4 linked regions of the Homo sapiens genome follow. The protein of the gene in region 2 interacts with the protein of the main gene of each other region in a pairwise test. Each region holds a gene or a part of one and is shown on either strand. Other genes may lie near its edges.

The links.
Region 1: the proteins of TLK1 (region 2) and DPPA4 interact in binary tests that used the Homo sapiens proteins (3 or more experiments, as listed by UniProt).
Region 3: the proteins of TLK1 (region 2) and GPRASP3 interact in binary tests that used the Homo sapiens proteins (3 or more experiments, as listed by UniProt).
Region 4: the proteins of TLK1 (region 2) and LHX2 interact in binary tests that used the Homo sapiens proteins (3 or more experiments, as listed by UniProt).

What each region holds. Positions count from the first base shown.
Region 1 is NC_000003.12:109,333,892-109,341,952, forward strand, and holds the start of DPPA4 (developmental pluripotency-associated protein 4), read right to left. Parts: upstream 3,656-8,061; 5' UTR 3,627-3,655; coding exon 3,573-3,626; intron 2,817-3,572; exon of another isoform or gene 2,430-2,816; intron 103-2,429; coding exon 1-102. UniProt on the Homo sapiens protein: May be involved in the maintenance of active epigenetic status of target genes. May inhibit differentiation of embryonic cells into a primitive ectoderm lineage.
Region 2 is NC_000002.12:171,150,187-171,158,214, forward strand, and holds part of TLK1 (serine/threonine-protein kinase tousled-like 1), read right to left. Parts: intron 1-8,028. UniProt on the Homo sapiens protein: Rapidly and transiently inhibited by phosphorylation following the generation of DNA double-stranded breaks during S-phase. This is cell cycle checkpoint and ATM-pathway dependent and appears to regulate processes involved in chromatin assembly.
Region 3 is NC_000023.11:102,723,333-102,731,360, reverse strand, and holds part of GPRASP3 (G protein-coupled receptor associated sorting protein 3), read right to left. Parts: exon of another isoform or gene 6,500-8,028; intron 1-6,499. UniProt on the Homo sapiens protein: Survival and differentiation promoting protein that plays a role in the regulation of neurosynaptogenesis. Induces phosphatase PP2A activity which results in APP dephosphorylation and inhibits BACE1-mediated processing of APP.
Region 4 is NC_000009.12:124,028,223-124,034,284, forward strand, and holds the end of LHX2 (LIM/homeobox protein Lhx2), read left to right. Parts: intron 1-4,197; coding exon 4,198-4,485; 3' UTR 4,486-5,079; downstream 5,080-6,062. UniProt on the Homo sapiens protein: Acts as a transcriptional activator. Stimulates the promoter of the alpha-glycoprotein gene. Transcriptional regulatory protein involved in the control of cell differentiation in developing lymphoid and neural cell types.

The sequences.
Region 1 (8,061 bases), on a different chromosome or scaffold from region 2:
TTTTTCTTTGGTTCTCTTTGCTGATGTTCCTGGCAAAGCAATTGAATTTGGTTGATTAGAAGCCTGCTGATCCTCTTCCCTCGACTTCTCTGTGGAGGTCCACTGGGGAACAGAGGAGCTGGTCAGTCATTCCTCTAGTGTCCAAACCACACATACACTACCTGCCTCAAGATAACTCACTTCTAAGGCACCAACGCAGTTACTGGACTCCACTGGCAGTGTGGATTCTCCTCTGGGTATCATCTTAATACTCAGTTTCATTTACAAGACTGGGAAACAATGATGGAAAAAAAGGGAGGAAGCCAGTTTGAAAGCACATGAAAAGACAGATACAAACAAGAGTAGAAGAAAACAGCTCTGCCTTGAGGGGAAAAAGCGCTTAGGTAGGCTCACGCCTGTAGTCTGAGTGCTATAGGAGGCCTAGGCAAGAGGATTGCTTGAGTCCAGTAACTGGATACCAGCCTGAGCAACAACATAGTGAAACCTTGCCTCTACATAAGGAAACAAAATTAGCTGAGCATGGTGGTGTGTGCGTGTAGTCCAGCTACTCGAGACTGAGATAGGAGGATTGCTTGAGCCAGGGAGGTAGGTAGAGGCTGCACCACTGCACTCCAGCCTGGGTGACAGAATGAGACTGTCTCAAAAAAAAAAAAGAGGCCCTTAACTCACTTACTATATTCCATCATCTCTCACCTGGCAGAATTTTTTCCCCCAGTCCTTCATTCTTGACGCCTTCCAAATAATTTTCTAACACTGTTGGCAGAGTGACACTATGAAAAGTTTCAGTGGTTTATTGCTCTTAACATAAAAGTAATTGTCTTTAACATTACCTACCAGCCTCTTATCTCCTATTTCACACTGCTCTCCCTGACCAAGCTCCAGCCACATAATTCCTTTCCTTTCCAAAGTTGTTACATTCCTCAGCCCCAACCTCCACCCTACTTCTATTTACACTTTAAAATCTTACACCTTAAAAATCTTACTCTTCTTTTAAAAGTCTCACCTCAAGTGCTATTTAACCTGGTCCTTCCAGACCAATCTACTAAATACTACCTCATTTCTACCACTTGTTAATTGCAATTACATTGGTTTGTGTGATTTCTTTTTCATCATAGGCACTCAATAAATATTGGTTCATTGAATTAAAGGAAGCAAAGTGGGAGTGGGGAAAAGTTGTTTAATCCAGAGACAGTAACATATATTGAGCCTCTGTCTCATACTAGGCATTGGCTTTGATATGCTCCTCACTTTCATTTTTTTAAAAAATATTTATTTATTAAAGAAAAGGTCTTGCCCTGTCACACAGGCTGGAGTGCAGTGACAGGACCATAGCTCACTCCAAGCTCTACCTCCCGGGTTCAAGTGATCTTTTGCCTCAGCCTCCTGAGCAGGTGGGACTACAGGATAATTTTTTGTAGAGGTGAGGTCTCCCTATGTCTCCCCCCACTGATCTCAATCTTCTAGCCTCAAGCAATCTTCCCGCCTTGGCTCCCCAAAGAGTTGGGATTAAAGGCGCGAGCCACTGCGCCCAAGGGTTCCCTATTTTCTTTTTCTCTGAGAGGAGTCTCGCTCTGTCACCCCGGCTGTAGTGCAGTGGTCCAATCTCGGCTCACTGCAACTTCCATCTCCCCGGTTTAAGCAATTCTCTGCCTCAGCCTCCCCACTAGCTGGAATTACAGGCGCCTGCCACCACACCCGGCTGAATTTTTCTATTTTTAGTAGAGATGGGGGTTTCACCATGTTGGCCAGGCTGGTCTCAAACTCCTGGCCTCAAGTGATCCGCCCACCTCAGCCTCCCAAAGTGCTGGGATTACAGGCGTGTGCCACTGTGCCTGGCCTTGGCCTTCCTTTTTTCATTCATTTAATTCTCATAGCAATCTGGCAACAATTACTTCTCAGACACAGAAGCTGAGAATCAGAGGTAACATAAAGACACAGATTAGGGGTACATTAGATATAAATTAAAATTTAAATATAAAGGCTAGGCTCCGTGGCTCACGCCTGTAATCCCGGCACTTTGGGAGGCCGAGGTGGGCTGACCGATTGAGGTCAGGAGTTCGAGACCAGCCTGGCTAACATATCGAAACTCAGTCACTACCAAAAATACAAAAACTACCTGGGCGTGGTGGTGCGTGCCTGCAATCCCAGCTAATCGAGAGGCTGAGTCAGGAGAATCGCTTGAACCCGGGAAGCAGAGGCTGCAGTGAGCCGAGATCGGCTACTGCACACCACTCTGGGCGACAGAGTCAAACTCATTAAAAAAAAAAAATTAATATAATAAAATTTCTCCTAAATCTAAATCCTTTTCTTCACTTTCAGGGTGGATTACTGGACAAATTAACATTTGTATGGCATTTTTACATCTCTATAGCAGTTCTACATTTTGATTTGAAATTTATATTTGCATAAACCTTACAAAAAGTACTCACTTTGGACCTCACAAAAGACTTAAAACCGAGACAGTTAAAAATGACCCAGTTCAAGTCAAGAGGACCTGAGAGCGCTCGGATATGGCCGTTCAGTGCCTGTGCAACGTCTTAAATCCTCTCTTCCTTCAGTTTCTGTCTGCATTGTTCCCAATGTCTGGCTTCTGATTACTCCTAGGTCCTAAGGACGCTGGGAAAAGGGGACGAATTCATTCTCAGCACCCTCGGTTTAGGATCTGTGTCCGTCTAAAGGAAATTAAGGGGTTTCATTCTTTTCCAAACTCAGCTCAATTACCTCTTCCTAAAATCTTTCCTTTAACACCCTTTTCTCCTGTTACCATTTCCCTCTAGCCCCCATATTCAGTTAGTTCTTTCTGACAGGACTAAGCACCTCTTCAAAACAGAAAACCCGGGCCGGGAGCAGCGGCGGGCGCCTGCAGTCCCAGTAGCACTTTGGTAAGCCGAGGTGGGAGGATCGTTTGAGCCTGGGCGGTTACAGTGAATAGTGATGGTGCCACTGCACTCCAGCCAGGGAGACAAAAGTGAAACCCTGTTCCAAAACACAAACCTGAAAACCTAATTTTTTAACTTTTTCTTTTGAGGTGGAGTTTCGCTCTGGTTGCCCAAGCTGGGGGTGCAATGGGGCGATCTCGGCTCACCGCAACCCCCGACTCCCGGGTTCAAGCGATTCTCCTGCCTCAGCCTCCCGAGTAGCTGGGATTACAGGTGTGCGCCACCACACCTGGCTAATTTTGTACTTTTAGTAGAGACGGGGTTTCTCCATTTTGGTCAGGCTGGTCTCGAACTCCCGACCTCAGGTGATCCGCCCGCCTCGGCTGCCCAAAGTGCTGGGATTACAGGCGTGAGCCACCGCGCCCGGCCTCTTTTTTTTTTTTCCCCATCTTTTGACACACTCAACCTCCTCAACTAAACCTAGAAAACCTCATTTCTTACTTGTCTGCTCACTCCAATATACCAGGCTGCAATCATATTCTTGGGCCTTACTCTTAAAATAAAAAAAAAAAAAGTCAAGAGGAGAAAATTCGAAGGCACATTCTTTTCTCCTTAAAGGAAAAATCAGGAGTGCCCAGGGAAGACAGAAACACAAAGACAGACAGAAAACAAATCCACTAAAACTGTACTGACCTCCTTGCCTTTTGCCTTCTCCATACTTGTAGAAGAAGCGGAGCCTCGCAACATGCTTCCAAAATGGCCCCTGCCCCAAGATTGCTATTTGCAAAGTCTCCTCCCACTTCCTGCCGCCCGAAGACCCTTTTTCTCTCCACCTCACCTCTTCTTTTCTTCTCCCCTTCTGTTCCCTCCCCCACAATTTGTAAATGCTAAAATTGCATTCTTTCTTATTCATGGGGTGACTTTTGTCTGGGTTGAATTACTAATACTATTCCTGGCCCTTTTCTGTTCACTTTAAATGTAATTATCCAAAGTATGGTTCCGGAGACATTGGGAGATTGAGCACTCCTTCAGAACGATTCTACGGGGAAAAAAAACAAAAAACAAAAAACAAAAAAACAGTGGCCAGAGACTTGAGCAGGATGTGTGAAGGGATTTAATAATGGAACTTGTGGCAACAGTAGACTTCAGAGACCAGACTGGCGGCTTGAAGAAAGCTATTTTCTCGTACCAAATACATTCCATTTCCTAAGTAAGTTACTCAACCAACTAAAACTCCAGGTTTCTCTGTACTAATACCGAGCATCTTTTCATCTGCCAACGAACTAATAATAGTAGCTTTTAAAGTCTATAGAGTATTTGTTATTTATTTTGTAGAGGGCAAGTGGGGGGGTCTGGCTATTTTGACCTGGCTGGTCTCGAACTCCTGCCCTCAAGTAATTCTCCAGCCTTGTCCTCCCAAAGTGTTGGGATTACAGGCGTGAGCCACCACTCCCCGCCCGAGTATTTTTTTATATCTCAAATTGTGAGTTTTAAATTCAGTCATTATTGTTCCCCATTTTATATATGACTAAAGTTGGTATAAATTTTTATTGGTAACTTTTTCAATAGCACAGTAAGTGAACCCCTAACCTACTGACTCCCAAAGAAGTTCAAGTTTTTCTCCTTAAAATAATTTGAAAAATCTTTCCTCAGATCAGTGCTCCCTGTCAGATTGTCAAGAGATGTGAAGTGAAGGAAGCAGTGGCTGTGCGACTGAAACCCTCCCTTGTCAGGGTCCAAAGTCTCTTTTGTTCTTTGGTTTACTTTGTTGTTTTTTTTTCCTACATCTCATTGCTTGTCCTAAAATGATAAATAAGAGACTGTCTTTATCCAAATGGTGTTAGTAATCTGCTCACAGGCTAGAAATCCACGGACAGAAAAAGTAAGTAAACGGAGCCCAGGAATAGAGAAGGAAGTGCAGGTTGTGGACTGGGCAACCCCCAAGGCGGCAAAGAGGAAACCAGGTGAGTTGAGGTCATCTGGGAGATATTAGGGCTTTGATTTAACAATTCTTTACCACAGCCTTTGGTAACCACCAGTAGGACTTTCTAATTAAGGTTTGTGTATAAAGTGTATAACTGAATCATCTTTCTTTTGTCAGTGTAATTGAACGTAACATTCAGAATAACTGGAGTTCTGGGCTGGGCATGGTGGCTCACGCCTGTAATCTCAGCACTTTGGGGGGCTGAGGTGGGCAGGTCACTTGAGTTCAGGAGTTTTGAGACCAGCCTGGCCAACAATGGCAGAACCCCTTCTCTACTAAAAATGCAAAAATTAGCCGGGCATGGTGCGTGCCTGTAATCCCAGCTACCAAGGAGGTTGAGGCAGGAGAATTGCTTGAGCTGGAGAGGCAGAGGTTGCAGTGAGTCAAGATCGTGCCATTGCACTCCAGCCTGGGTGACAGTGTGAGACTCCATCTCAAAATAAAACATAAAATAAAAATAAAACATAAAAACACAGACACCAAATCCAGGCCAGATTGATTCATTTTTAAATGTAAGGCTTTAGCAGCTAGCCAGACAGGATTTAAACCCAACCTCCCCTTCACTAGCTGTGTGACCTGGGCAATAACGTTAGGTCTCTTTGTTTTCTCATCCATGAAATGAGAGTCATGAAAATAATAGCCTTTACTTAGAGGGTTGTGGGCATGTCTGGAGAAAACAGTGTCTGGAGAAAACAGTGGCTGGCACAGCACATGTTGGGATCAGAAGAGCAGGGCGTGGTGGCTCATGCCAGTAATCCCAGCACTTTGGGAGGCAGGAGAATCGCTTGAGCTCATGAGTTCAAGACCAGCCTGGGCAATATAGTGAAACCCCATTTCTACCAAAAATACAAAAAATTACCAGGCGTGGTGGCGCAGGGGTGCCAGCTACTCGAGAGGCTGAGGTGGGAGGATCGCTTGAGTCCAAGAGGTGGAGGTTGCAGTGTGATCATGCCGCTGTACTCCAGTCTGGGTGACATAGTGAGACCTTGTTTCAAGAAAAAGACAAAAAAAAAAAAAAAAAAAGAGTTGGAGAGGAATGAATTTGAGAGATTTAGGGGTATTCTGGTTGGGTTTTCTTTTATTTTTCCTTTTCCTTTTTTTTTTTTTAAGAGGTCTCCCTATATTGCCCAGGCTGGTCCCAGGTGAAACTCCTGGTCTCACATGATCCTCCAGCTGTAGCCTCCCGAGTAGCTGGGACTAAAGGCCAGCACCCCTAAGCCCAGCTTTTTCTTTTCGCTTTCTTTTTTTATAAAAAGTTTTTTAATTGTGTAAAATGAACTGAATTAATGAGTCCTTTAGTTTACCCGGAGGCAGTGAGTCTTCCAAAGTCATTAATCTGCATCTGCAGAAAACAAACCAGCATTGATTCATATGTAACACTGTTTCCTAACAGAATGGAGAGAGGGGGCAGGAGGTGTGGCTGTGGGGGAGGGAGGGAACCCTTGTCTGTGTCTCTCTGCTGTGTATTCCAGAAGCGCTGAGTCAAAAGCTGGGTTTATTTAATATCTATATAGAGTTCCCCAATTTATAACAGTGCATGAAAATACCTCTTTCCCCATGTCCAAGAGTCTAGTATTTTAACAAGTACACTAGTACTTGACACACCTAATTTATAATAATTCTACCTTGTAGTATCTCCTATAGTGGATAATCATTGCCGTTTTAGTGGTTATTTTACTGTAGGAAAAGGTGAGTCAGTTAAAATTAAATTTAGGGAGTAAGGCAGATCATGAGGTTAATTAATAACTTTTGTTTAAAAAGGGAAAAGTTGGAGGTAGATGATAGATCTGGTTATCATCAAAAACAAGAAAACCCAAACCTATTTGCTTATAAACAATTTCCCTCCCTCCCTCATTTCCTCCCTTCCTTCATATCTTATTTTTATTTTTTATTTGAGACAGAGTCTCGCTCTGTAGTCCAGGCTGGAGTGCAGTGGCGCAATCTCAGCTCACTGCAACCTATGCCTCCTGGGTTTTTAAGCGATTCTCGTGCCTCAGCTTCCCAAATAGCTGGGATTACAGGCGCCAGCCACCACGCCCGGCTAATTTTTTTTTTTTTTTTTTAATTTTTTTTTTTGAGACAGAGTTTCGCTCTTGTTGCCCAGGCTGGAGTGCAATGGCGAGATATTGGCTCACCGCAACCTCCGCCTCCCGGGTTCAAGCGATTCTCCTGCTTCAGCTTCCCGAGTAGCTGGGCTTACAGGCATGTGCCACCACGCCCCCTAATTTTTTGTATTTTTAGTAGAGACGGGGTTTCACCTTTAGCCAGGATGGTCTCGATTTCCTGACCTCAAGTGACCCGCCCGCCTTGGCCTCCCAAAGTGCTGGGATTACAGGCGTGAGCCATCATGCCCAGCCCTCCTTCATATCTTTTTTTGTTTGTTTTTTTTTTTTTGAGACGGAGTGTCGCTCTGTCGCCCAGGCTGGAGTGCAGTGACGCGATCTGGGCTCACCGCAAGCTCCGCCTCCCGGGTTCACGCCATTCTCCTGCCTCAGCCTCCCTAGTAGCTGGGACTGCAGGCGCCCGCCACCACGCCTGGCTAATTTTTTGTATTTTTTAGTAGAAACGGGGTTTCACCGTGTTAGCCAGGATGGTCTCCATCTCCTGACCTCGCGATCCGCCCGCCTCGGGCTCCCAAAGTGCTGGGATTACAGGCGTGAGCCACCGCGCCCCGCCATATCTTAAGCACTGAAAATAAAAAGGCGAGTCTGGGCGCGGCTGCACGCCTGTAATCCCAGCACTTTGGGAGGCCGAGGCGGGCGGATCACTTGAGGTCAGGAGTTTGAGACCAGCCTGGCCAACATGGCAAAACCCCGTCTCAACTAAAAATACAAAAAACAGCCGGGCGTGGTGGCGCGTGCCTGTAATCCCAGCTACTTGGAAGGCGGAGGCAGGAGAATCGCTTGAACTCGGGAGGCAGAGGTTGCGGTGGGCCGAGATCGCGCCATTGGACTCCAGCCTGGGCGACAGAGTGAGACTCTGTCTCAAAAAAAAAAAAAAAAAGAAAAGGTGGCTTTGGTCCTTAATTACCACAAAGTAGGAAGAGTTCCAAAATGCCAGTAAACATAGTATCATTGACTCAAATACTTGTTTTTTTTAGACATCCTCTTTTAAAAAAAAAATAACATATTGGGGGTGGGTGGGTTGGTCTCCTTCCATTCCTCAGGCTGGTCTCAAAACTCCTGAACTCCAGGGATC
Region 2 (8,028 bases):
GCTAAGTACACGTATCCTTCAAAAAAATAATCTGGCAACATTTACCGAAAGCCCTAAAATTGTTTTATACTCTGCTCTCGTAATTCCATGACTGAAAATCTAGTATTTAAAAAAAAGGAGGCTTTTACTCAGTTACTGTATCATTATCTATGACAGTTATAAAGTTAAAATTAAAAAGACATAACCTAAATGATTCGCTATAGTTGTTTTTTGCTCATTATCATCCCTTCCTCAGGAAAACTACACCTCATCCAATTCATGTCATCTCAAGGGGACTGTCAATCCTGGCTTTCTGTGGGTTCCCCAACTCACCCTAACCACAGCCACCACAGTGGCTACCCTTGCTGTAGCTCATCTCCCAGGTTCCAATGATTGGTTAAGGAACTGACAATCAGAATTGATTACCAACAACACAACTGACATGTGGACATCAGGAAAGAGAAGCTGTCTTTCAAGTGTGGTTGCTAAGCTAAAGGTATATGTCTGGGGCTCCAGAAGCAAGAGGCTAGAAAAACCCAGAAAGGAGACAAAGAAACCCAATGACATTACTTGCAACCTTGGATCTAGCTGTTTCCAAAGCCATTCCATCACCCTCCACATACAATACCCAGTATGTGAACCAATACACTCATTTTTTAACTTAACAAAGTCGTGTTGTTATTACGTGTAACCAAAGGATTCATGACTAACATCCTACCTAAAGAAGAGTAGTTAACCAATTATAGTGCATCCATTCAAGGAAATAACATTGACAGAATAGTGTAACTGTTAAGAGCATGTACTCAGCCCAGTCTGAATCCTGGCTCTGCTAAATATTCTCTATGTGTGCCTGGGTACATTCCTTTTTTTTTTTTAGACAAGGCCTCACTCTGTTGCCCTGGCTGGAGTGTAGTGGCGTAATCACGGCTCACTGCAGCCTCAACCTCCTGGGCTCAGGCGATCCACCTCAGCCTCCCAACTAGCTGCAACTACAGGCGTGCACCACAATGCCCGGCTAATTTTTGTATATTTTTGTAGAGACAGGGTTTCACCATGTTGTCCAGGCTGGTCTCGAACTCCTGCGCTCAAGCCATCTGCCCACCTCAGCCTCCCTAAATGCCGGGATTACAGGCATGAGCCACTGTGCCTGGCCCTTGGATACATTACTTAACTTCTCTATGCCTCAATTTCCTCATCTATAAAGTCGGGATAATAACAGGACTTCATGTGATTGTTAGGAGAAGCAAATGAATTACTATTTACAAATGCCGGGAATAGTGTCCAGCATTAATAAATATGTGTATCTTTTTTTTTTTTTTTTTTTTTTGAGACGGAGTCTTGCTCTGTCGCCCAGGCTGGAGTGCAGTGGCGCCATCTCAGCTCACTGCAAGCTCTGCCTCCCAGGTTCACACCATTCTCCCGCCTCAGCCTCCCGAGTAGCTGGGACTACAGGCGCCCACCACCACGCCCAGCTAATTTTTTTGTATTTTTAGTAGAGACAGGGTTTCACCGTGTTAGCCAGGATGGTCTCGATCTCCTGACCTCGTGATCCGCCCGCCTCAGCCTCCCAAAGTGCTGGGATTACAGGCGTGAGCCACCGCGCCCAGCCATGTGTATCTTTAAGTAAATGAAATAAGTATCTTTAAGTAAATGAAATAAGTAACAGAGTAGTATACAAAGTTGAACTAAACTACATATTTACACAGATGTTTAAAAGAAATCGGCAAGGAAAAGGGAAATTTTATATTTTTTATGAGGCAAATATACAGTATCAAAAAAGGAAAAAAGTAAAACATGTCTCTGGTCTTAGGAGACAGGATGAGTATGATTAGCCTCACACAAACCCCTCTGACCTTCACCAGAGGAACTACATTCATCCTCAGATAGGAAGCACTTACCTAAGTGTCCAGTGGGGAATCATGAAGTCACACAACTTATCATATTAACAGCAAGAATTTAAACCTAGTAGTTTATTTACTCCAGCTAATTAGTTTTCAAGGAAAAGCACAAATTTATGAGTATAACCAATTCTTAACAATCCACATAGATGAAGAGGAAAAAATATTTTAAGTCATCCCCCCAAAATACTTATATTTGGCTAATGAATCTATGTAGAATATAATCACTTTTATTTAAATACAGGTTAAATTGCCTTCTTGAAATTCATTAAATTTCAGACCTAATGATGAAGCCACATTGGAAAAATTTAATTCAAGTTTGACAACCTACCACCTGGATCTGCTCTGCTCTGCATATCTTTCCACTCCATGACTGATAAATTCCTATCAATCCATTCAAATCCTGCCTCTCAATTAGGTTTGCTATATAATACATGCTACCAAAGGTTTTGTTATTGTTGTTGTTGTTGTTGTTGTTAGCAATAAAAGAATTAAAACTAAGTATTTTTTTAAAATACTTTTTTACAGATTAGCTAGACTGCACATCCTCTTCCCCTTGCCCATACTGAATACTATTAACAGAGTCAAAGATCTGCCACTAAAGCATTATAATTTAGTTTAAAGCCTTGTCCATCAGGTTATAAAGCCTCCACAATAAATAGACTGCTCCGATACTGACAGTGGGAAGTTTTTTGTTCAAATTCTAGTATTTACTTGTTATGGCTCCAGTGGGTTTATGAGGCCAAAATATCAAGATAAATGGAATTACAAATTAGATTATCTAACATGGAAATAAAATTTTTCATTGATGTATCTCTAACATTTTCCATGAATGGACAAAACTTATCTTAAAAAAATGAAGTGTAGGATTTGCACAGCTGGTACAGCTTTCTAAATTGGGTTGTTTGGTTGGGGTTTTTGTATTTTTTTAAATCTTATCTTCACACGTGTATAAAAACTCATGCAAAAAAAAGTTAACAAAAGTTTAGAAGTAAAATGAATAAGCCTGGAAGTCTGATTAGTAAGTTAAAATCTGCTTAGGAAAAACTACTAAAATACTAAAAACCAAATTTTCATATTTTAGGCAATATATCCTAGTGATTAAAATACACCAACTTGGTTCAAATCCCCATCATGTACTACTCTAGGTCACACTGGTAAGTCACTTTACTTCTCTGTGCTTCAGTTTTCTCATCTGAAGATGGGAATAACAACTGTATGTAACTCAGAGTTATGAGATATAAGAATTAACATGTGCGAACACAATAAACTTTAGCTATTACTGTTACTGTTATCCATATCACCCTCTAAAATATAGTTCACTTAAGAATTACTAAAATAAGCATCTTCCTGGGTCTGAAATATGTGCATACCATGATATATAGAGAGATGATGTATGTGAAACAGTCCTTTGACAAAACTTTTAGTTGAGTGCCAACTCTGTAGAGGATGTCCTCCTGTGCACTGAAAATACGAAAATGAACAAAATATAGTCTCTGAATTCAAGACCTTTCTGTCTAGTAGACAATATAAATAAAACTATAATAAAAGTAGCATGATGCAGATGCTATGGAAACAGACAATCCTGTGAGACACTAAACAACACAGGCACTTAACTAGGGGCAGACACAGGGGTCCCAGATAAAATAAACTCCAGCAATATTTTCTGAGGAACAATCACCTACTTACTTCACTTCCGGGTATCACACTGTTATTTACGCAATTTATATTATTAATATATTAATAAGTGTTTTACAAAAAACAAGACTACCTATCACACTACTTACCATGCTCATAAACTTAAATACCCTTTGGTATTAATGAAGATGTTTTCTTTTTTCTTTTTTGAGACAGGGTGTCACTGTGTTGCCCAGGCTGGAGTGCAGTGGCATGATCATAGCTCACTGCATCAACTGCAGTCTTGAACTGCTGGGATCAAGGTGGGATCCTCCCACCTCAGCCTCCCCAGTAGCTAGGACTACCGACATATGCCACCATACCCAGCTAACTTTTTTTTTTTTTTGAGACAGGATCAGGCTAGTCTCAAACTCCTGGACTCAAGCAATCCTCTTGCCTTGGTCTCCCAAAGCTGGGATTACAGGCCTGAGACATAGCACCTCGCCTGATGATATTCTCTTAAAAAAACAAAATATAACCTTGCAAAGGTTATACTGCCTCTTCAAGAAACATTTCTTTCACCAATAAATAAAAGCTACAAACTTTCCCCTAATAAATTATATTACGACTAATGTCACAGGAATGACAATATTTTTGAGCTGGAAGAGACCTTTGAGAGCCTCTAATCCAATGCTCTCATTTTACAGATGAAAAGAGGCTGTAAAGTATAATGGAAAAAAAAAACCAACCTGAGAGTCAGAAAACTGAATTTTGGGCCCAACTGTCTTACAGTGAAAGCCTGTGCAAATTATCTGCTTCCTCATCTGTAAAATGAGAGGTTTGTACTAGATTGCTTCCAAGATCCGGTTCAGCTCTGTAATTCTTAGTTTATGGAACTGAAGCAGAGATAAGCAACTTGCCCAAGGTCACACAGCTAGTTAATAGCAAAGTAAAGACTATCCTCAGATCCCAACTACAATCACTTTCTCCCCTATACCATACTGCTTCTACTACTTCATAACAATATTCCTGTAATTTATTTTAAGATTCTTGAAAATTATTAACAAGCATGAAGGAGTTTATGAAACTACATGACTGATTTCTACAGCTCTTCTATAGGAAATGAGCTTTAAATCCAAATGCAACAAGTACATGAGGTCTCAAGCTGGGTATTATTACTTACTACACTTATTAATATTAAATTGACCCCAAGAAAGTTATGAGAATTTATGCTTAAATTCCCACCACCTAAAAATCCAACTCACAGAAGAGATTATGTGCCATGCAAAATTAAAATATGAATTGTTATAAGTAATGATACATATTATAGGTATAATTCTAGGAATAAGATGAGAATTTAAATTCTTCATTTTATGTTCTAGTTATACTTAATATGCATTTTAAATTCAAAAGAGATCAATTTAAACACTTTTCTTTCTTCTTCCCTCTTTTCAGACTCTCTAGCTTTAAAAACATTAGAATAACTTAAGCATATTACTTCTGAAATCACGTAAACAATTACAAATAAAAGACTATATAAACTATGCTCATAATTTCTCTTACAAAATTGAAAATCAGCCCCCATAGTATTCTAAAATTCTGTGCTGAAATATATTACAACTCTACTAAACTGTATCATAAACAGCATTTGGTTCTCTAAAATGTCTTAAGCTTATTATATTTCACAGGGAATTTAGCAAGATTTCATGAAGACTGATCTTGCTGACACAAGAAAAGACAGAAAAATCCTCAGAGGAAAAGCACAATAAAAATGCAAAATAGTAATAAAGTCAACAACAACAGTAGTTTCATACTACTGACTTGCAAGAACATTCAAAAACGTTAATGAATATATATAAGTATAGTTTAACTATATTTAGGGATTTTTAAAAAATCACAGAATGTTTACATTTTTAAATTGGATGAAGCCTTAAGTCACTAATCCAATAGCACTCATCGTAAGAATCTACAGAATTTATCTCCACCTCCCCAAAAAATATGTCCCTGTAGTCCACTTTAAATTCTCAAAACTAACTACTTCTTTCCATTGTTGTTAGCTGTTGCGAGTTCCATTGTTGCTCCACTGTTCCACTGTTCCAAGTCTAGTTGTCATACAGTTCTTACATTCTGGTAAAAAATTAGACTGACCTCAATGTCTTCCTAATTTTCACCCGTTGGTCTGCCTTCTAAAGCAGGAGAATGGATCTATTCTCCCTCCTATTTATTAAAATTAACAGGTTTTTAAATCCTATTTACTGAAATCCAAGTTTCTTAAATACCTGGAGACAGCTATCACGTCTCCCAACCGTTAGTCTCTTCTTTAAATGTATCTTCCATAGACTTCCTGTAGGTCCTAGAGACATTTTTGGAATACAATATGCTTTCACATTGTCAGTAACTTAAAAAACAAAAAACAAAAAACTGCCACTTGTTGAATTTTGATGTAATACCAAAGAAGAATACTCACTCTTTCCTTTTCCAACCATATATCTACATGAAGCTGGATTCTCTTCACATATCTCAACCAAAACATCATAACAGACTGAAGGCAGACAAAAAATCCAGCTGTCTTCTCCAAGTAAGCCAGAAATCAAGGTGATTTGCAAAAATATAAAACAATGCCACTGGTCTAGTTTCTTTGGTTTTAGGACATATTTATTCTTCATAAAAAATTCTATTTACAACACAGTTTAAATTAATAAATATATTTGAAATTGTCATTTAATTTCTAAAAGAGCAAATATTAGTAGATATAATCTACATAAACCTAAATCTCTTGGGGTCCTCAATAATTGTTAAGAGAGTAAAGAGGCCCTGAGGCCAAAAGGCTAAAGCATAGTCTATTTCTCATAAGATTTTCAAACCTCCGTTCTGGTTTCTCTCTTTTATCTCTCTCCTCTAATATGTAAATGTGCCATTGTAAAGGAGACATCTGTCACATATCTATTCATGAGCTAGAATCCTTAAACACATAACCCTGTCCTCCTCCAGCTAGTGATTTCAAAAAATTAAAGGCCTACAGGGCCATCTGGTACACCTTCGTTTTTAACATCTCATTACTAAATCATCTGAAGTCAATTACTTTAATTCTTCTAAGGAATGCAGTCTTTAAATATGGAAACAGAGGAAGTTTACAGTTTAATCGAACTATCATGCCATCTTTTTTTTGAGAAAGTATCTCACTCTGTCACCCAGGCTGGAATGCAATGACGCTATCTAGGCTTACCGCAGCCTCCACCTCCCAGGCTCAAGCAATCCTCCCAACTCAGCCTCCTGAACCATGCCCAGCTAATTTTTCTATTTTTTGTAGAGACAGGGTTTCACCATGTTGTCCAGGCTGGTCTTGAACTCCTGAGCTCAAGCAATCCACCTGCCTAGGCCTCCCAAAGTGCTGGGATTACAGGCTTGAGCCACCACTCCTGGCCCATACAATCTTTTTGACCAAGCTTTCACTATTTACAAAAAAGTAAAGCAAATTATTTATAATTGGCAGGTTGGAGCAGGAAAGAAAATGCAAGTGTTCTATATAATCAATCATCTGATTCTCAGCAATAACCCATTCAAAAGTACCCATGTACTGATATGCAAAAAAACCCAACTACTTATCTAGCCAATATGACACTAGGTTCCTAGACTTCAACAAAGCAAAACTGGCCTTTACTTGAAAACCTTTTTAACTCGTCACTCCCTTAATCACAGGATTATAGAAGACAAAATGGGATGGAGATTATAGGTTTAAAAGATTCAACAGAAAATCTAGAGCTACATCGCTGAACTCCTCTAACAGAACCACAAGACTGACAAGCGAAAAGCTTTGGGACCCGAGGGAAAGAAATCTATACTATATTTATCACATAATTTCCTAAATTCTAATAGATTCCCAAATCTTATAGAGCTGTATTTTATTTGTGATAAAACTATGTGAATATGATAATGGTAATAAGGTAAAAAGAAACAAAACTACAACATACAGCATCAAAAATAATCAGATCATAATCTTAGGTTTGTGGTTTCAAATGTCAAAACTTCAAAATAAGTAACTTTTACAGATGCTTATGGCATATTTTTAAAAATAACCCATTTTCAAAGTTAAGTCTGCCTAAAAGGAGTTCATCACATAGAATATTTATGTAAGTTCACATACATGTGTATCTCTTTTAAGTTTCAATTATTCTATTACTATATGTTAAACTGACTCAATTTTTCAAGAAACAAAGTTAGTTTTCACCGTGATACATACAATACATTCAAGTTCCATTAATATTAACGGTTCTTACTAGCAGTAACTAGCAGTTAAAAAGCTTTCTAAAACTTCATCAATTTATATAATGTACTAACATGTATACCTGGAAAAGGTGCTAAACACTTAAAATAAAAACTGAGATTTCGCTCAATAGAAATCATCTCCATTTTGACACTCAGGGCTTCATATTCCTGTTAGCGTTAGTGAAATCTGAGAACACATCGCCAAGCTTCAAAATGAATATAACCCTAGAGAGGATTAATAGTTTCAACTTGCATGCTGGTTGGTCAA
Region 3 (8,028 bases), on a different chromosome or scaffold from region 2:
TGAGCCACTGGGCCCGGCCCCTGAAGCCTTTTTAAATAAACTTCCACTCCTGCTCTGAAATTTGCCTCGGTCTCTTTTTCTGCTTTGTACCCCTTGGTCGAATTCTTTCTTCTGAGCAGGCAAGAATTGAGTTTGCTGCAGACCTGTATGGATTCACTGTTGGTAACTTGGATACCTTCCAGTGGTAACACTTAGGTGTAGACTTTTTTGGTATTTATCCTGCTTAGTATTTTCTAAAATTCCTGGATCTGTGGTTGGATGTTTGTCATTGATTTTGGAAAATTCTCAGCTGTTATTATTTGAAATATTTCTTCTGCTCCAAATTCACTGTTTTCTTTCTAGTATTCCAACTATGCATATGTTATACCTTTCAAAATCATCCCACAGTGCTTCAATGTTCAGTTCTTTTTTTCATTTCAATTTGGAAGTTTCTATTGTGAAAAGAAAATAAAAACCCAGGACCCTGATTCACTATGCCAAAAGGAAAATATTAAGCTGAAAGCTGAGTCATGCAATAAAATACCTTTCTTTTTTTTTTTGTTCCTAAGCAGATAGCTACAGATAAAAGGTTAAATATCTCCACAGGTAGATATTACACATTTTCCTTACCTTATGTAAAGTGCTGATTTACTGTGAGCCAGAGGAATACAGAATTGACTATTCCTGTTTCTGCTCCTTTTCCCTTGCATCATGTGGATTACTGTACCCTCCCTCTTCCCCTCTAGCCTGCTGTTTCCATTTAAATATTGAAGCCCTCAAAATTATCTTTGGATAAAGGCACAGACCACAGACTGTTTCTGTGATTCCATGCTCTTTTCTTCTGGGAATGTCTTCACCTTGGCAAAATAAACTTCTAAATCAATTGAGACATGTCTTACATACTTTTTAGTTTACACTATTGACCTATCTTCAAGCTCAGGAGTCCCCAGCCCCTAGGCCACGGACCTGGACCCGTCCATGGCCTGTTAGGAACTGGGTCACACAGCAGGAGGTGAGTGGCGGGCTAGCCAGTAAATCTTCATCTGTATATACAGCCACTCCCCATCACTTTCATTGCCGCCTGAGCTCCGCCTTCTGGAAGATCAGCAGTGGCATTAGATTCTCATAAGAGCACAAACCGTATTGTGAACTGCACATGTGAAGGATCTAGGTTGCATGCTCCTTATGAGAATCTAATGCCTGATGATCTGTCACTGCCTCCCATCACCCCAAGATGGGACCATCTAGCTTTACAAAAACAATCTCCGGGCTCCCAGTGATTCTACATTATGGTGAATTGTATAATTATTTCATTATCTATTACAATGTAATAATAATAGAAATAAAGTACATAATACATGTAATGCACTTCAATTGTCCTGAAACCATGCCATTCGCCCCCCAGTCTATGGAAAAATTGTCTTCCACGAAATCTGCCCCTGGTGCCAAAAAAGATTGGGGACTGCTACTCAAGCTTGCTGAGTCTTTCCTCAACTGTGTCCAGTCTACTGATAATCCCATCAAAGGCATTCTTCATTTGCTGGAGTGCAGTGGCACAATTTCGGCTCACTGCAACCTCCACCTCCCGGGTTCAAGCGATTCTCCTGCCTCAGCCTCCTGAGTAGCTGGGATTACAGGCACCCGCCACCACGCCCAGCTAATTTTTGTACTTTTAGTAGAGATGGGGTTTCTCCATGTTGGCCAGGCTGATCTTGAACTCCTGACCTCAGGTGATCTACCCACCTCAGCCTCCCAAAGTGTTGGGATTACAGGCGTGAGCCACTGTGCCTGGGCTCTGTTACAGTATTTTTGATTTCTAGCATTTCCCTAAATATTCTTCTCAGGGAGAGTTTACATTTTGCAGCTCTTTTAACTGTTATTCACTGTTATCCACTATTATTATAATAAAGCCTTGTTAGCATGGTGGTGAAGTGCAGAGGAGAGGAAGTGTTCTATAATATTATGATTAAATTTCAGTCTTTTGTGGGCCTGTGTCCCTGGGCTTTGATTTTCATAAGAGTTTTATTTTAGCGCCTTTCTCTCCCTTACATGAGACTAGAAACCTAAAGGGGGCTGAAATAGGAGAAACGCCTTTCCCTCAGCTGAGATAAGGCTCTGATAAAGTCTTTTCCACCACAGAATAGGCTTTTTTTTTAAAAAATGAAGAAGGCTCTGGGTGTATTTCACAAAAGTACAGTTCCCTTCCCACTGCAGGGGCCATGAGGCCCTTCACTGCAAGAATATGGTGGGTTTCTTGGAAGTAATGCCCACAAAAGTGTGGGGACCTCCCTGACTGCAGATCCTCAGGGGTTTCTCACTCTCATATTATTCCACACTCAGTCTCCAGCAATTCATCAAAATTACATTTAAGTGCTCTTACCTATTTATGTCTCTAGCAGTTTCTGTTCTATGAAAGAAGAAATAGGCTGTGACTCTCTGGATTTGCCTTCAGAATTTGGGGTAGTCAACTGTCCTATGCCTCAGTTCTTTGAAGAATCTAAGAAATGTTGTTGATTCTGTTTGTTCAGATTTTTTTCTGGTTGTAAGTACAGGAGCAATGACTTACAAGTTCTTACATGTTGGAACTGAAACTGGAAGTCTGGCTATGGGTTTTAACAGGGAAGCTAAAGAGCAGTGAAAAATAAAAAATAAAAAATTTAAAATGGGCTGGGTGTGGTGGCTCACACCTTTAATCTCAGCACTTTGGGAGTCCAAGGTGGGAGGATCGCTTAAGTCCAGGAGCTCAAGAGCAGCCTAGGCAACATAGCAAGACCCCCTCTCTATTTAAAAAAAAAAAAAAAAAAAAAAAAAAGCAGTGCACATTGCTTTTGTCTGCTTCTTTTCTGCTGAACATCACATCTGGGAATTAGGTTGCCCTGGAAAACCCAGCTGCTCCATAAATATTAGCTCTTTTCACTCCCAGGTACAGGAAATTTATGGGGCTCCCTGAACCTGACATCTCAGCCCAAAAATTTGTAATGTGCAATGCAAATTAGACTTTTGACCTCCTGAATCAAAATTCCTGGTAATGGCCATGCACAATGGCTCATGCCTGTGATTCCAGCACTTTGGGAGGCCAAGGTGGGAGGGTCACTTGAGTGCAGGAATTCAAGACTGGCCTGGGCAATGCAGTTATACCTTGTTTCTACAAAAAATCTTTAAAAATTGAAAAATATATATATTATTGGTAATGAAGTCTGAGGAACTGTAACTTAATGCTAGGAGAGAAAAGTTGTCTATGTCACTACCACCACCACCACCATCAAGAGGCAGTGCATGATACTATTAGAATCTATAGTTTACATTAACTGCCTAATGATTGTTAAGTGCTTGCTTAGACTAGAGTAACTAGTTTCTGAGCCCTGGGAGTACATTCTAAAGGGAGTTTGTACAGAAGAGTTGGGAGTACCCAGATTTCAGAGCCAGACAGTCCAAAGTCTGAATACAGACTTTGTCACTATTTGTGTAACTTTAGCAAAGGTACTTAACGTCTTTATAACCCAGTTTCTTCATCCTTAAAAGGGAGCTGGCATTAACTACTTTACAGGATTATTGTGTATACTGAGAAAACTATTTGATATCCTGCACAACATGTGTATATCAGATCTTTCTAGTTCTTTTAAAATTTCTGATCTATTCCTATTATGGAGTGGGCTGGAGAAAGCAAGAAAGAATAGATGAGAACTACATGGTTTTTAAAGGTCATAATTGCTAAGTCAGTGTCACTGTGCTCTTTGTGCTGTAGCCTCAGTGCTTTGTATATTCTGTGTTGCTTACCATAACCCTTTACTAAAAGGATGCCATTTTTGCATAGTTGCCACTGCAGGTTACTGACTTTCTCCTCCTTTTAGTCACATGTCACAGAGAGGCTAATTCCATTTCCAAGAGTGAGTCTCTTTGGTCTACGGATAATCTATCCCCTTGGTACTCTCTTGTTTAGGAAGAGGCATTGATCAAATTCCACTCAATGTGACATTAGGGGAAGGTTACAGATGGACTTCTGAGGAAAGTGTCCTCATTCATAAGACAAAGTCATCAGAAAAGATTGTCTTTTCTTCTTCCTCAGGAAGTTGCTTACCTCCTGGAATTGTTGTAGCCATCAAGCTATCAGCCTTAGGACGGAAGTTGATATTGTGAATGGCAGAAGAAAGAGACGGAAAAAAGCTGAGTCCTTCGCTGAATTAAACAACCATCAAGGCTGCCCTACGTCAGTACTTACAATCATTGGATAATTAATTTCCTTATTAAGTTAGTTTTAGTTGAATTCCTTGTTATATGAAAATGGAACAATCCTAGATGTGCTCAGGCACAAAACAGCTCTTCAGTGAGTAAGAATTCCTGACTTGTGTCCATCAGTGAGCATCAGTGAGCACCTACATCTGCAGTAGCAGAACTCATGTTTCCCAGGAAAGAAAAGCCAGAAATTCTCAACACGTGTCCTAATGATTGCTAGAGGTCTGACAACTGTTTGGCTTCTGCTCCAGATTAAAAAGTAAAGCTTTAGGCAGAAGCCAAACTCTGACTTATCTAGGAGGTCCAGAGGTACATTAAATACTTAAGATAATAGATAAACCTAGTTTCAATTCAGAGGATCATTGTGTGAAGGTGCACCCTTGTGAAATATCCAGATTATAAAGATATCAAAGGTTACCTGCTTTCAGTTCAGGGGACTGTGCTGATATTGAGAAAGACACATTTACAGTGTCGACAGTTAGAACAATATGATTAATTTTCCCAGGTGCACTAAACAACAAAGGTATAGAAAGTCGTAGATACTTGAGATTTATCCAGAGTTGGGGTTTCTCCAGGACAGTGGAGCCAGGCACTAGAGGATGAGGTAGAAGAGTAGTAAAAATAAGTACTGTGATGGGCATTGGGTTGGGAAGGAAGGAAAGGGTGGAATAGGCTGATAAACAGGGAAAAAAGGATAAGGGACAGGAGGTCTAACAATATTCAGGTTTAATTTCTTTATGATAAATACTTTGCTACAAGCTTTGAGGAACAGAAGATCTGATTGTAAAAACAGTTACAATGATCATGGATGCTTTTATTGATAACTAGCACTGGAGGAATATAGACATAGCATAGAAGTAATGCACATCAGCTCCAGATTCAAACCACAAAGGTGGGAATGTCACCTCCTCTGCTAACCAACTCAGTGAGGTTGGCTAAGCTACTTAACCAATGTGTGCCTCAGCTTCCTCATATGTAGAATGGAAACAATAGCAGCACCTACCTCATAAGTTTGTTTTGAGGATTAACTAAGTGAATACATTTAGAGCCCTTAGTAGAGTACCCTGGCACATAGAAATCACCCAATAAATCCAATAAATCTTAATATTAACACAAATTACTATTTTAAGTAGTAAACATTCAGGCTTTGCAGTCAGACAGACTGGGGTTTGAATCACACTTCCAGAGTCCAAGCTTCTTTCTCTATGCTTCCTGTCCCTCAACACTAGTTCTATGTTATTCATTAAAAAATAAAAATAAAAAAATAAAAAGACTCTGATGCATGGTATAAAGAAACAAGTGGGATGGGCGCAGTGGCTCACGCCTGTAATCCCAGCACTTTGGGTGGCCGAGGCGGGTGGATCACCTGAGGTCAGGAGTTCAAGAGCAGCCTGGCCAACATGGCAAAACCCTGTCTCCACTAAAAATACAAAAATTAGCCGGGCATAAATTAATGGTGCAAAAATCAGTGGTGTGTGCCTGTAATCCCAGCTACTAGCGGGGCTGAGGCAGGAGGATCGCTTGAACTTGGGAGACAGAAGTTGCAGTGAGCTGAGATCGTGCCACTGCACTCCAGCCTGGGTGACGAAGTGAGACTCCGTCTCAAAAAAAAAAAAAAAAAGAAACAAGTGGCCAAGTGGCAAATAAAATATTGTGTAAGTACAAAGAATGGAGGAATTACTTCCTACCAAGGGGCAAGGGATAAGGGCGAGGAGGTATCAGACTTCAAAAAGGCCCTGGCATTTGAACTGAGCCCAAATGATGTTTCCCATAGACAGAAAAAGGGTAAGAACATTGAAGATTGAAGGGACAGCATGTGGGAAAGGCATAAAAGTAGTAAAGCACACAATACAGTTGGGAAAACAACAGATTTTCCAGTGGGGCTTGACTGCAGGCAAAGTGGGGCAAGGCCTGGAATAGTGTGAGGCACTTGAGAACAAGAGCTTCTTTCTTCATTTCATTCTAGTCCTGGCCTTGACTTGGAAGAATGTTATGAGAGATGGAGATAGAAAGGCAGACTTGTATTAAAGGGTGCAAGGTTGTGAAAGCCTTGATAGAAAATCTGGTGGTATTTTATAGATGAGATCCCATTGAAGGTTGCTCTTTTGAAATTGGGGGCAGAGTTGAGAATTAGTGGCTGCTAAAAGTCCAGACTAGACAGATGAAAAATTCACTCTGATACTATCCCCACACAACAACATTTTAGGCCAAGTGACATCTGAAGTAGCCTCTATTATATAAAGTAGCCCATAATATTTATCAAAAAAGGGAGAAGGAACAAGAGGACTGAGTGAATGATGAAGTTTTTATTTCAACTACACCCCAGAAAAATAATTGAGGAAGGATTCTACCCGCTACAAGTCAGAACAAAGGCAATCATCATTTTGCTTGGATACACACACACACACACACACACACACACACACACACCAGTCACCCTGCTCTTCGGCTGAGATTAAAAAATTCTACAGGCATAAACTGTTTAAGTATCTGCTTTGGAGTACATTTGGGACTTAGAAGTATTTAATCAGGCCACAATTTGAAGTTTTCTAAATATAAATGCAATACCCACAACAGGAATTCTAGGCTAAGGGAGCTGTGATAAGAAAAAAAATGATGACAGGATAGATGGATAGATAGATTAGATAGATAGACACATAGATAGATATAGATAAATAGATACATAGATAATTTTAAAAATTATCTAAATTACAGGTACATGCCACAAAAACAGACTGCTTTTTTCACCCATAATACACTGTTGGGTCTGAATCCTTCATTTTAACTTGTTGATGTAGAATACACAGCAAAGGTAAGCTTTATGTATATTAATCTAGGTGTGGCTGCTAAAACTAGGGAAAATTACACTATTGTTCTGATATCAAATATTTGAAACCAACTACTTGGAGTTAGCATTGGACTCCACAGGTTTAAGGGCACAATCACCAACAATACTGCCCCCACTTTAGATCAGATACCAGCCCCAATTCTCAGGAAGCCACCCATGCTTCTGACTGACCACTTATAAATTCAGGAGTTCCTATGACATTATGAGGTTTCATAATTAACTGAAACAACTCGTAGAACTCAAGAAAAGTGCTATTCTTATTATTACAGTTTCATTTAAGGATATACACAGGACAAGGTCTGAAAGCATTCTGGACACAAAGCTTCCATACCCTCTCCTTATGGAGTCAGGGTACACCACTCTCCCTAGAGAACAATATGTTCACCAACCAAGAAGCTCCACTTATCCCTGAAGTTCAAAGTTTTCACTGGGGTTTTATTACATAGGCAAGATTGATTAAACCATTGGTTGTGATTGAACTTAATACCTAGCCCCACTACCTTCCCTGAAGGTTGAGCTGGCCCAAAGTTCCAACCCTTTAATCACATGGTTGGTCCTTCTGGTGACCAGTCCCCATCCTGAAGCTATCTAGGGGCCCACCATAAGTCACTTCATTAGCATAACAAAGATACTCCTGTCACACAGGAAATTCCAAGATTTTTTGAAGCTGTGTCAGCAACTAGGGATAAAGATCAGCTATATTCTCTATTATACCACACCATACTTGAAGTCTTCTCTGTTGACATACTCGAAAAAACACACAGAGACAAGAGACAAGACAGCTTGAGTAGAAAACCATAAGCTGAATGCTGGCCCCAGTACTTATATTATCAGAATTCTGGAGAGTAAAGAGAAGAAAATAATAGGAGAGGGTAGGAGACGAGGATGCAGTCCTAGGGACTAATCTCTACCTATGATTTTGCCCCACATACCTTGTATCTATCCTAGCTTTTAAGTCTAAATAGGAG
Region 4 (6,062 bases), on a different chromosome or scaffold from region 2:
AGGGGCAAGAAGCAACGTGTGCTTCTTCATCTACCCAGGGCTTATTGGAGATCTACCGCGCACCAGGCTGGGGCACCCCGGCCTGGTGTTAGTTGTGTCCTGATGATTCTCTGTCTGAACTTCGCCTTCTTGTCCCAGACACACAGTCCAGAGAACTTGAGGCATGTGAAAAGAGAAGGCCTGTCAGTTTCAGAAGATGGGTGGGTGGGGCAGACTGCACCTTGTTGCTTGCAGCTGCCTAAGAATCCCAGCCTGTCAGAACCCTGAGAGCCATAGAGATCGTATGATGTGGTCTAACCCTCTTGTTGTACAAGTGAAGAAACTGAGGCCGGTCCAGAGGTGAGGGACAAACCCGAGGTCACGTGGTAGTCCCAGGACTGGAAGCTGCTCTTTCCACTGCACTATAGTTGCTTCTCTGTTTCTTCATCCATTTATTCACTCATTCATGGACTTGCTACCTCCCTCAGGACCATGTGGCAGGGAGAGCATGGACTCTTTTAGGGCAAGTGGTCCTGGATTCCAGTCTCAGGTTGCCCTCTGTGTGACCTTTGGCAAGTGGTTTTACCACTCTGACCCTCTCTGGTTTTTAAATCTATACAGTGAGGGCAGGCACGGTGGCTCATGCCTATAATCCCAGAACTTTGGGAGGCCAAGGTGGGCGGATCACCTGAGGTCAGGAGTTCAAGACCAGCCTGGCCAACATGGTGAAACTCCGTCTGTACTAAAAATACAAAAAAATTAGCCAGGCATGGTGGCGGGTGCCTGTAATCCCAGCCACTCAGGAGATTGAGGCAGGAGAGAATCACTTGAACCTGGGAGGCAGAGGTTGAAATGAGCTGAGATCGTGCCACTGCACTCCAGCCTGGGTGACAGAGCAAGACTCTGTCTCAAAAAATAATAATAATAATAATAATAGTCAATAAATAAATCTATAAAATGGGAATAATAATAGTCGAATCCACCTACTTGGCTTTTCATGGGAATAACCTGTGGCAGTGCATGCTGGAGGGTGGCATGGAGCCTGGCACATAGTAAAAGGTACATACATGTCAGCCATTCCTATGAATACATATTACTGATTCTTAATCTCTGCCAGTCTCTGCCATGCACCGGGGGACATGAAGATAGCATAGAAAGGGTCCCTGCTCCCATCAAACTCTCAGGAGTGGACTTTTTGAAATACCTGGGAGAGAATTCTAGTGAAGCCCTGACAACATGAAGAACAAACCCCACACAACCCCAGAGCAGCCGGGCTTTTAATGAAGTTGTTGAATTTTCATCTACCAGATTCCCAGTGCCTCAGCTCTGGAAAGCAGAGAAGGTAGTTGTGGACGATGGTGTCATTGTTTACAAGCCCACTGTTAGGGGCAACAGCCTGAGAAATAGCAAACAGCCGGCAACTAACCGGGTCCAGCCCTGCCCGAGGTCTTGGAGCCCCGGATGGATGAGCAAATGAGCACCCGGCAAAGCACCCTCAAACCCTCGACCCAGGCTCCCCGCTCCAGCTACTGCTCTGAGAGTCAGACGCACAGAGCACAGGCTGCTCAGGGGTCACACGCACACAGGCCAGGACAGTGGCAAGGCAGCGGCACCAAGGCTCCGGCCTTCTCCACCCCAATCTGCATGACTTTGGGGAAGTCACTTCCTCTCTCTGAGGGCCTCTGGGGGCTTCCCCATCCATTTTCTTTAGGCCACCAGGACACAGTCTCTCCCCTACAGATTTCTGCTGGCCGGGAAAGGGAAGGACCCCCCCACCCCAGGGAAAGCATGTCAAGGGTGGTCTGAGAAGCACTGTACTTATTTGCCAGCCCCCAGAAGGGGTGATGGGCTTTCTTTGGGCGGAGAGCCAGGGAAAATGTGCCTTCTTCCTGGGAAGATCCAGCACTGAGGAGGGAGCTTGGTTTCTCCACTTCACAGGGTCTGGATCTCCCACTTTACTCCAAGATTCTTGTGGATTTGCTTTTAATTGAGCCCAAATTGTGTTACGCCACCAGAAACGGGGGTTTGAGGCCACAGGCCCCTGCAGCCGGGGTGGTCCCAAGGGGTGCGTGGGGCCAGGAGTCAGCCCTCCCTCTCCTGCCAGAGACACTGGGAAGACAGGCAGATGCAGGACATCTGGAAATGCGCAACTGGACACCCCAGAATCTGCAGAGTGCCCTGAGGCCCTTTGTTTTATGGGGAGGCTTCTGGCGGGTGTTTTCCTCACGCAAAGGGAAGTGAAGGGGCCCTGCCTTTCAGGACTTTTTCCTTGGAAGGTTCAACCCCCCCAGAGTGGCCTGGATTTCCTAAGCCCCTCCCAAAGTACTTCGTGGACCTCTGGGTACAGCGGGTCCCTGTGTTTGTGCTGTTAGATGGGTGGTGGTACTTAGGTGCTGGCTGTGTAGATGAATTTCATTTTTCTTTTCTTTTTTTTTTTTTTTTTTTTTTGAGATGGAGTCTTGCTCTGTGGCCCAGGCTGGAGTGCAGTGGTGGGATCTTGGCTCACTGTATCCTCCGCCTCCCGGGTTCAAGCAGTTCTTCTGTCTCAGCCTCCCGAGTAGCTGAGGTTACAGGAGCGCACCATCACACCCAGCTAATTTTTTATATTTTTAGTAGAGATGGGGTTTCACCATGTTGGACAGGCTGGTCTCGAACTGCTGACCTCAAGTGATCCACCTGCCTCGGCCTCCCAAAGTGCTGGGATTACGGGCTTGAGCCACTGTGCCCGTCCTTAGATGAATTTCTGTGTGTCTTCCTGAATGCTTACAGGCGTGTGTGCAAAGATATGGGAGTGGACGCGTGTGTGTCTGTGCCCAAGGAAAAATGAAAGTAAACCCATGTTCTCTCACTGACATTCTTTTCAGACAGAGCTCAGCCCCAGCTCTGCGCCCCGCCGCACGTCCCTCATAAGTCGATACGGGATGCAGCAGGTCGGGAGAGAGACTCTGCGGGTTTCAACTTCCCTGGCCTCACTTTAATTTGGCTGCCGTTCCCACGCTGCCTACCTCCACCCACCTCCACCCTGAGACCTGACACCCAGTGGCCCAGGGTACCTGGTGGCTCCCCCAACCGATGATGGGGATAGGTTCCGTGTCTTTCACTTCCTCTTAGTAACTCATTATTATTGCCTGATTCTCATGTGTTCTTTATCGCATTCCCAGACTTACTGACCACAAAACATTTAAAACATTTTACCAACAAGAACTTGTGGGGTTTATTGTCTGCTGAAAGGCAACTGCCAAAAAAGGAAAAAGAAAAAAAAAAAAGGAATGTCTCAAAGAACCATTAGGAAAAGGATCAAGATTTGTCTGGTGTGTGTGTTTGGTGTGTCTGATAGAAATGCAACATGAGGCACACATTTAATTTTAAGTTTTAAATGTCCTAGTAGCCTCCTTGAAGAAATGAAGAGAGACAAGTAAAAGTAAAATTAATTTTAATAATGTATTTTGCTTAACTCAGTATAGCCAAACTATTAATCATTTCGACATGTAATCAATATAAAAATTATTGAGATATTCTACCTGCTTTTTTTTTCATATTCAGCCTTCAGATAGGTTGTGTGTTTTCACCTGCAGACTGGTTGAATTTGGGCTAATGCCATTTTAAGTGCTCAGCAGCCATACGTGGCTCGTGGCTGTGATATTCGGGAGTACAGCTCAGCTCTGGAACCACCTATCAGAAAGAGAAGCCCAGCCGTAGCCCATTAGATAGAGTGAAATTTTTGTTTTATTTTATTAAGAGCAAAATATTGGCCAGGTGCAGTGGCTCACATCTGTAATCCCAACGCTTTAGGAGGCTGAGGCAGGAGGGATCACTTGAAGCCTGGAGTTTGAGACCAGCCTGGTCAACATTGCAAGACCCCGTCTCTACAAAAAATAACTTAAAAAGTTAGCGGGGCCGGTGGTGCTCACCTATCTATAGCCCCAGCTACCCAGGAGGCTGAGGCGGGAGGATCGCTTGATCCCAGGAGTTAGAAGCTGCAGTGAGTCGAGATTGTGTCACTGCACTTCAGCCTGGGGGACCAAGCCAGACCCTGTCTGCAAACAAAAACAAAAACAAAAAAACCAAAAAAGCAAAATATTGCCAACCTGACTTTTTGGATCCTCTTGGCAAAACACAGATCAGCGTCCCCAGAGGCAGCAGAGCTCTGAGTGAAGCAGTCGGGGGGATGCTCTGCCTGCCTTCCGCTCACCAGCCCTTCCCTGTCGTCCCCCGCAGGTCTGGTTCCAGAACGCCCGAGCCAAGTTCAGGCGCAACCTCTTACGGCAGGAAAACACGGGCGTGGACAAGTCGACAGACGCGGCGCTGCAGACAGGGACGCCATCGGGCCCGGCCTCGGAGCTCTCCAACGCCTCGCTCAGCCCCTCCAGCACGCCCACCACCCTGACAGACTTGACTAGCCCCACCCTGCCAACTGTGACGTCCGTCTTAACTTCTGTGCCTGGCAACCTGGAGGGCCATGAGCCTCACAGCCCCTCACAAACGACTCTTACCAACCTTTTCTAATGACTCGCAACCCCTCACCCCACAATTTCTTTAAAAAAGAAATTATCTTTAGTTGAATTCCAAGTGTATTTTAAAATAGAGGCTTTGAGCAACTAACTAACCACATTTTAGGATCTCGCCTGGAAACAGAGGTAAAAAAAAGAAGTGTGCGCCCGGCTAATGCAGCGGTGTGGACCGAGGAACAACTTGGAAGATCTACCTGCAACACAACATTTGTGTCACTGTACAGTTTTGTGGACTGAGCGAGGAAAAACAACAAATAATTTAAGTTGGCTAGAGCTTCTGTATTTTCAAAGACTGCCACGTGCCTTAGGAATACTGTTTTATCTCCATACTTTGGATGACTTGTTCATTTTTCTCTCCCTCTTTTTCTCTGTATATTTATGACCAGAGCAAAAATGTAAAAAACAAAAAAAACAACAAAAAAAGTTTGTTACTTTGAATAGTCCTAAAAAGAAAAAAAGAAAAAAAAAAAAGGAAAAATCAAACCCCCTCCAACGGTCGCTTTGTTGTTTTAGAATTTTAAGGTGGAAGTCTGTTCGAATATCAGAATTTGTAAAATCTAACCAGTAATAAAACCACTTATTGAAACTACTTGGGGCTGCTGCCATTTGGTTGGGTGTGAAATTGACAGGACCTAAGAGTTTTACTGAGGCCCAGAGATCAATTCTAGGTCTTCACATATTCATCAGATATTCCTGGGGCTCCTGTCTTGTGCCAGGCTTTGGACGGATTACAGAGATGCCGAGACAAAGATCCAATTCCTGCTCTCAAGGAATCAGAATGGTGACACGGGACAGACAAAAGATATCTTAACAGGGTGTGATATGTGCTCAAGTGGAGGATATGCAACATCCCATTCATTCATTCATTCATTATTCATTCATTCATTCTTTCAAATATTTAATGAGCACACCCTGCCAGATGCTTGTGATGCAGAGGTCAGAGGCCCTTTTCTGCTCCTGGCTGGGCTGGAAAGAAGGCATGTCAGGCGATGAGGGAGGCCTCCTGAAAAACCTGCAGCTTTTCCCTACGAGGAGTGAACGCAGTTAACAAAGGGCAGCTTAAGCTCCAGTTTTCCTAATGACACAAAATTTCAAGATCGCTAGAGAGGGCAAAAGCAAATGAATTCTGTTCCTTTCCTAAAGTTTCAGGGAACCTCAGAAACCCAGAGAAAAGACACACCCAGAGAGGAGGGAGGGTTGGAGCCAGGCAGAATGAAGTTGGAATTCCTACTGTTGAGCAGGGTGAGCTGAAGGAAGTCATTTCACTTCATTGGGCGTCAGTTTCCTCAGCTATGAGCTGAAGATAATGAATGGCCCTTGCATGGCAGTTGTAGTGGGGGCAAAAGGTAAGATGTGTTGAAGAGCCCAGCAGAAGGCCTGACACAGAGTAGGGCTCGATGCATTGTAGTGAATGACAGACAGGTGATGTGAGGACTCTGTGGGTGGAGAGCAGGAATGTGTGTATCCAGGCACCCTCTGGCATTGCTGAATGCACCAAGCAGGTGTGGTGTCTGTCCCCCAGACTTCTGACACCCCTCATTTCTCACTCTGAGCCCTGCTTCGGAGTACTCT